Linked DNA regions of Homo sapiens. The protein of the gene in region 1 interacts with the protein of each later gene in a pairwise test. Each region holds a gene or a part of one and is shown on either strand. Other genes may lie near its edges.

Region 1 (3,600 bases):
TAATGTTAAGTAACAAAACCCAAAAATTTAGTTGTCAATTCTTACACTAGTAAGTCCAGAGATGGTATCCAGGTGACTACGGCAGAGAGTAATATACACATGTATGGCTATAAAGTAAAAAGAATTTGTCTCACTGTATTATAGTCACATTTTACAAACATTATTCTGTCTGCAACTTCTAACTGTGCATCCCAATGTTACTTAGAATAGCTATGTAAGTATTTTTCTTTTTTTTTTTTTATTATACTTTAAGTTTTAGGGTACATGTGCACATTGTGCAGGTTAGTTACATATGTATACATGTGCCATGCTGGTGCGCTGCACCCACTAACTTAAGTATTTTTCTTATCCAACCTAAATGCATGGTTAGAGACAAATAAGTTTAATGCAAGAGTTTTAACAGATCTTTCCCAACATTTGCATATGAAGTTGCAACAATTAGTTATATTCCTAGCAAATTTATCCTGATTACAATTTAACATTAACTTGTAATATAAAAAAACATTTTTATGGATAAATTTTTAAAAACTCTTTAGACTAACTTATAAATTCACAAAAACTAATCTGACCTTGAAATTCACTAGGAACACTTAGAGAGAAAAAAAAAAATCTGGAACCCTCTGAAAAAGAGAGAAAAACCTAATCCTTGGCAGCCTACTGACATTAAAGAGAACGGTCTAAATTAAGAATAAACAAAAACAAGATGATAACTTATACTAATAAAACATAAACGTGCAAAAGTTTTTAAAAACCCAACCTACTGGCTGGGCATGGTGGCTCACGCCTGAAATCCCAACACTTTGGGAGGCCAAGGTGGGAAGATCGCTTGAGTCCAGCAGTTTGAGAGCAGTGTGGACAACAAAGTGGGTCCCTGTCTCTACAAAAAACCGACCTATTAAACATGCATTATCTATTTCTGTGAATAATCACTTTATTTTTTTTTTTATTTTTGAGACGGTCTCTCACTCTATTGCCCAGGCTGGAGTGCAGTGGTGCAATCTTGGCTAACTGCAACCTCCACCTCCCAGTTTCAGGTGATTCTCCTACCTCAGCCTCCTGAGTAGCTGGCATGACGGGTGCCTACCACCATGCCTGACTAATCTTTGTATTTTAGTAGAGACAGGGTTTCACCACATTGGCCAGGCTGGTCTCGAACTCTTGACCTCAGGTGATCCACCCGCCTCAGTCTCCCAAAGCTAAGATTACAGGCGTGAGCCACTGAGCCCGGCCAACCAGTTTACTCTTATGTCATTTCTTGAAATAGCAAACATGAATATTTACAGAACATTAATCAAATCAGTAAAACTAAAACCCAACAGCTATACCCTTCTTTCAAATTAAAGAGCATTGATTTTTCTTAAAATTTATTACTTCTAATTTTCAATGGACTGTTATAAAGTTAAAAATAAAACAGGACTAAGAACAAATCCCAAAGTCATACTAATCAAGTGATTTTGCTAACCTCTCTGCACATCTTTTTAAACTCTTAAAAAGAGTTTAAAAAATGTTTACGAAAATTCATTCTGCAGCTCCACAGAAGTGCTTCAAGTATTGTGTAAAGCTTGATCCAAAAAAAATTAATATATCTTAAATATGCACAAAAACAACAGATATGTTCAAATGTGTTATAATCCAAATTTTAACACATTTTAAAATGACCAACTCATCTTGTTGCCAAGCATTTGGTGATGACCATAAAGACCCTTTTCATATGTCTATTTTAGTAAGAGACATCAAAGACTACGAAGTGATTTGTTTAAAAAACCAGGTTGTAAATATAAAAATGTGCAACTCCAACTACATAAAAAAAAAAATTCTTGCTGGTATACAACCAAAATAAAATATGAAAATAAGCTGCAACTGTTACTCAGATTGCTGCACTCAAATTCATGGATTTATCCAACAGCAATTTTTCTCATTGACAACTTTGTAAGTGTTATATATTGGAGACCTGCATTAGAACTTTTTGATCTGAATACTTCAAAAGTCCTGTTCACTTCTATGCTTTGACAGGAATATAAGAAAATTAACCAACTGAAGTGTTTTTAAAGGAGCAAAACGCAGGGAGTCAAAGCAATTTATTTCTTCCCTAAATTGAAATGCCCTACATAAAATACTATTTGTGAATCCAATGAGAGAAAACACTTGAGTTTGGGCTCTCCTTGCATTCGCTAAAAAAATCACATGCAGGCCGGCACGGTGGCTCACGCCTGTAATCTCAGCACTCTGGAAGGTTGAGGCGGGCAGATCACCGGAGCTCAGGAGTTCGAGACCAGTCTGGCCAACATGGTGAAACCTTGTCTCTACTAAAAATCCCCATCTCTACTAAAAATACAAAACTAGCCAGGTGTAGTGGCACGTGCCTGTAGTCCCAGCTACTTGGGAAGCTGAGGCAGGAGAATGCTTGAACCCTGGAGGCGGAGGCTGCAGTGAGCAGACATCACGCCACTGCACTCCAGCCTGGATGACAGAGACTCTGTCTCAAAAAAAAAAAAAAAAAAATGGCTGGGCAAGGTGGCTTACGCCTGTAATCTCAGCACTTTGGGAGGCTGAGGCAGGCGAATAACTTGAGGCCAGGAGTTCGAGATCAGCCTGACCAACATGGTGAAATCCTGTTTCTACTAAAAATACAAAATTGGTCAGGCACAGTGGCGCATGCCTGTAATCCCAACTACTTGGGAGGCTGAGGCAGGAGAATCACTTGAACCCAGGAGGCAGAGGTTGCAGTGAGCCAAGATCACATCACTGCACTCCAGCCTGGGCAACAAGAGTGAAACTCCATCTCAAAAAAAAAAAAAAAAAAAAAAAAAATATATATATATATATATATCCCATGCAATTTGAATAGCCCAGTCTTCTCATAATCAACGACATTTATTATGATATATATTAATAATATTGTCAAATGGTATAGAGACATATTAATGCTAGAGAGACAGGAAATATAACAATTCTAATTATACCATGCCTTTTGACACCAGGGTTTCAGCATTTCATACCCATTCTTCCCATCACATTAATACCAGAGCATCTGACTGAAGGTAAAGATTCACTTTGTCTCAAATGCATTAATATTAAATTTGTACACTTCTGTACCTCAAACAAGGGCAAAATACAATAAAACTGAAAAAATAAAAACTGTTGTTCAAAGATAATATAAGCTCTATATCCACACAGAAGTTAAAAATGTTCATATGTCAGCATATATGTCATACTTGAGTGATTCAGGATTGTCTCACCACATGAGATACAAAAGCCCAGCCCATGGAAAAGTAGGGACCACTTTATATCTTCCTCCCAACAATTTAAAAGGATAGGTGGGAGGGAACAGATATTAGAAAGGATGCACTAAAGAAATATGCCATAAATATGCAAAGTATTTTTAACTGTCAAAATACTTTGTAAATGGATCTAAAAGCATTTACATATGTTCCTACTGTATAATAAAAGTACTTATTTAGTCAAGGCCAATTAAAAATCATCAGGTTATCTTCATCTTACTGTCTAGCACATAGCAGCATCACTAGTTGCTGTTTTTAAGTAAAGAAATGTTCAACTCTAAGCTAAATCGTTAAGCAAAACAAGAACCATTCTGGTATT
Region 2 (3,797 bases), on another chromosome or scaffold:
TCACGGGCGCAAGGTTTGGAGTTACAACTGTTTATTTAGTCCTTATTCTCACAGGGGGCGGGAGCTGCGCGGGAATGGGGGGCTGCAGGCAGCGATTTCGAAGCAAACACATGGGAGGGGGGCATGCGACTTTGTTTCCGGGAGCGGAGCTCCCCAGAGCCCGTGTGTGTCACTGCCAGTCTCCCGGGACCAAGGCGGAGCTCACAACAGGTGGGGAGGGGGGCTCGTCGAGGGCCAAAAAGAAGAAGGAATCTAAGTTTCCGAGCGCGACGTTGTCTGAAAAGGAGGGAGGCGGGAGGCGGGGGCGAGGGAAGGCGGAGGCAGCAAATGACCGCGACCCCGCGGCAACTGGCAAACTCCTCGGCTCCCGGCGCCGCCGCCACCGCCGTGGTCCCCACTCGAAGCGCACGCCGCCTCGGCTCGCTGGCTCCAGGGAGTCGTCTCGGCGGGACAGGAATAGAGCGCAGGGAGCTCGGGAGGAAGGCTGCGCGCAAGCGAGGGACGGAGAGCCATCGGCCGCCAGGACAGGGCCGGAGGGACGAGGCGACACGCGCGCGACGCAGGACAAATCGGAGCTTGGGAAATCTCCCCGTCCCCCAAGCTTCAGAGGGGGGTAAAATCAGAAAATGTGTGTGATGGTGGGAGAGAGATCCGGGCGCGGCGACTCCTCGCAGCGCATCCGGCTCCCGCACCCACCCGTGGATCTGGCCACGGCTGTTGCGGACTCGTCTCGGGAAAGCGGAGGCCGAGCGCGCGTAGGGGTGCGTGTCTGGCTGGGGGTGCGCAGGTGCGTGTTTGAATTTTCCGGGCTCCGAGGGGGTGGCGGGAGAGCTTCCTCGCCGCTGACTCTCGGGGTAACGCGCGCGTGGCAGCGGGGAAGTTCCCCAGTGCGGGGCCCAGGGCCAGGCACCACAGTCAGTTTGCTGGGGCCCGCGGGGCAGCTCAAGGGCACCGAGGGGGCACACACCCGCGGGGAAAGAAGGGGAAAAGTTTGCTCCAAGTCTAAACTTTGGGCCTAGGAGGCGCCCGGCGCGCGCCCCCTCCCGCCGCGGCCAGGACCCGGGACCCCGCACCGGCCCCGCGCCCGGGCGGCCACCGGACGCCAACGCCGGACATCGAAAGTTGCGCCAGGCGGCCTGGGCTTATTGATTTCTCTCCCCTAGGCGATCGTGGAGAGCGCAGAGAGAGGCGTGAAGGGGCCTACGGGCAGGCGATCTCGCCTCCTCACAGTCGCCACCGCCCCCGCCCCCATTTGACTTATGCAAATAAACCCAAAGGGTGCGGGCGCCGCCGGAGCTCCCTCCACCCGCGCGCCGGCCCGCAGCCCCCACCCATCCCAGAGCTGGGCCTCGACCCGGGGGGGAGAGGAAGAGAGGGGAGGGCTGGGGGAGATGCACGTGGAGCCTGGAGGTGGAAAGTAGTTGTTTTTTTTTTTCCATTTTTTTTCTCTTTTTCTTTCTTTCTTTTTTTTTTTTTGTGCTGGTTGTTGTTGTTGTTTAAAGTGGCGGAAACAAGACAGGAGGCGGCTTGGGAAAAAGTGGAGCAGAAATGGAAAAATACAAACTCACCCGCTGCAAATGGTCTCTCGGTGCAAACTAAGGTGTTTTCGGGCCTTTCCCCGCGCGCGCCCACTCCCGCCCGCGCGCGCACCCCGCGCACACACTCACTCGCGCACACACGCGCGCACACACGCACTCCCGGGCGAGGGCCGGGCCGCCGCGAGTACAGCGTGCAACCGCCACACAATAAATAACAATAGATTCCTCCGCTCCGGACTAGCTTCCCGGAGCCCAGCCAGCGCCGGTGGCGGCGGCGGCGGCGGCAGAGGCGCGGGCAGCACCGGCCCGGGGGCGCACCCCGGCCCGACCCTCTACCTCCCGCAGGGGTCCCCTCTCCGCTTCACGCACCCCGCTGGGCACTCCAGCGGCCCCCCGAGCGGGAGCGGCTCCCTCTTTGCCGTTCGCCGGGGCGCTGGCGCCCACCCCCCTCCTCCCTCCCCCCTCCCCCCCGACATCCCGGAACAAATAAATAAATAAGGCGCGCGAGAGAGGCCAACACGTCGCGGAGGGAGATGTTGTTATTTTTTGCTGTTGTGCGTCCCTGACGTCACATCCACCTGCTGGGTAAACAACCGGGCTCCCAGAAAAAAAAAATCGCAATTGCCAAAGAATGGGGGGGGGGGTTGGGGGGAGGGATCCAGGGAGGGGGAAGTGAGGGGCGTCCAGGCAGGATTGGAAAGAGGAGAGGGAGGCAGAGCCCCGCGGACCAGAGAGAGGAAGGGAACGCCAGAGCAGTCCCTGGCAACAGAGGGATCTGGCAGGAAAGACCTGGAAAATAAGGGGCAGGGGGGCGGAGGGGGAGATTCCTCAGGAGATGGGAAATGGGGGGCCCATTCAGACAGCGGAAAAAACGAGAAGGGAGAGTGTTAACTAGGGACGAAGATGGGAATGCGATGGCTATTTGCTTGGATTCTGAGCTAAAAATATGAAAGGGAGGGGAGAGGACAGGCTAGAATGTGAGTTTCCTCCAGTTAAAAGTGAAAGTGTTTTGCCATCAGTGACAGTTGAAGGAGAGCGGGGTGGGAGGTGGTGTTTTCAACCCCCTTTCTCCCTCTCTCCCGTCCTCCCTCGGTCTCTCCTCTTTCTTTCTGCACTTTGTCCAATGAAAGAAGGCGAGTTCGGGAGGTGAAAGTTCAGCAGAAGGACAAACCCCTGTTTGCAAGGAAACAGAAACCCCGCCAGCCAGCGAGGGGTTTTCTCCCCTGTTTCTCGGAATCAGGAGAGTGTGAATGTGGGACGAGCTTCTGCCCCCTTGTCAGAGCCACTGCAGGAATGTGCAATCGAGTCCACTTTGGGGGAAGGTGGCTGCATCAGGAACTGTGTTCTTGCCACGACTCCTCTTAGGAAAACGCCTGGGGGCTAGCATGTCAGTCCGTTGTTTAACACAAATTACCTGCTCTCCCAGTGATCAGTCACGTGCAAAAAGCTTTGTCCAATTCTTTGAAAAGGTGAGATTTTTTTTTTTCTTTTTGCGGTTTTTGAAGTTTGGTTGAATTTAGAAATTCGAAGGAATAAACTAAGAGCCTGAATTAAATGTTTTGAAATATACATACATAAAACAAAAGACACTAGTATTTCTTTCACTTTTATCAATACGCATAGAGAAGGAAGCAGAGTATGTGTTTCCAAAACGTGACTTGGAAAGCTGTAAGACCTCTATGTCTTGTTGTTGTTGTTGTTGTTGTTGTTAACAGAAGTAAATTTTTTCAGACCCACCACCACAGAAGTGGCCAGACTCCCAAACCAGCATTTCCAGCTACTGGCTGGCTGGTGTACACCAGGCCAATTCTTTATGAGAATATATTAAAAGTCACCCCTGTGGATTCCTACAAAGTACTTCCCCTTGCGGGGAGGGGAGAGGCTTACTGTCCCTTTGGTCTTGAGACCAGCACAGTTGTAGATAATATCCTGAAAAGGTTATTATTAAATTCTTTCGCGTAATGCCCCTTTACAAATATTGTTAAACATTAATTTACAGAAGAACTTAAATCTTAATTTCAAGGGTGGCATAAGACTATCGCTTTGAAATTGTATCTTTCGCAAGTTAAAAAAAAAAAATAACAAAGCCATTCGCTGATGCTACAGAATAAAAGAAAGGGAGGCTGCTAAGGTAATTTCAGCCTGGTAGAATTCACATTGCATGCATGCTGCATAAAGTTCCATGCTATCCAGATAAGACTATTCACTGAATCTTTTAGACTAGAATCTAGACCAATAAAATGCATTTTAGTTTGTATG

Evidence for each region.
Region 2: the proteins of ZMYM2 (region 1) and FOXP1 come close enough for resonance energy transfer, tested with the Homo sapiens proteins (2 studies listed by BioGRID).

Annotation. Positions count from the first base shown.
Region 1 is NC_000013.11:19,961,727-19,965,326, reverse strand, and holds part of ZMYM2 (zinc finger MYM-type protein 2), read right to left. Parts: intron 108-3,600; coding exon of another isoform or gene 46-107; intron 1-45. UniProt on the Homo sapiens protein: Involved in the negative regulation of transcription.
Region 2 is NC_000003.12:71,582,003-71,585,799, forward strand, and holds the start of FOXP1 (forkhead box protein P1), read right to left. Parts: upstream 1,727-3,797; 5' UTR 1,569-1,726; intron 1-1,568. UniProt on the Homo sapiens protein: Transcriptional repressor. Can act with CTBP1 to synergistically repress transcription but CTPBP1 is not essential. Plays an important role in the specification and differentiation of lung epithelium.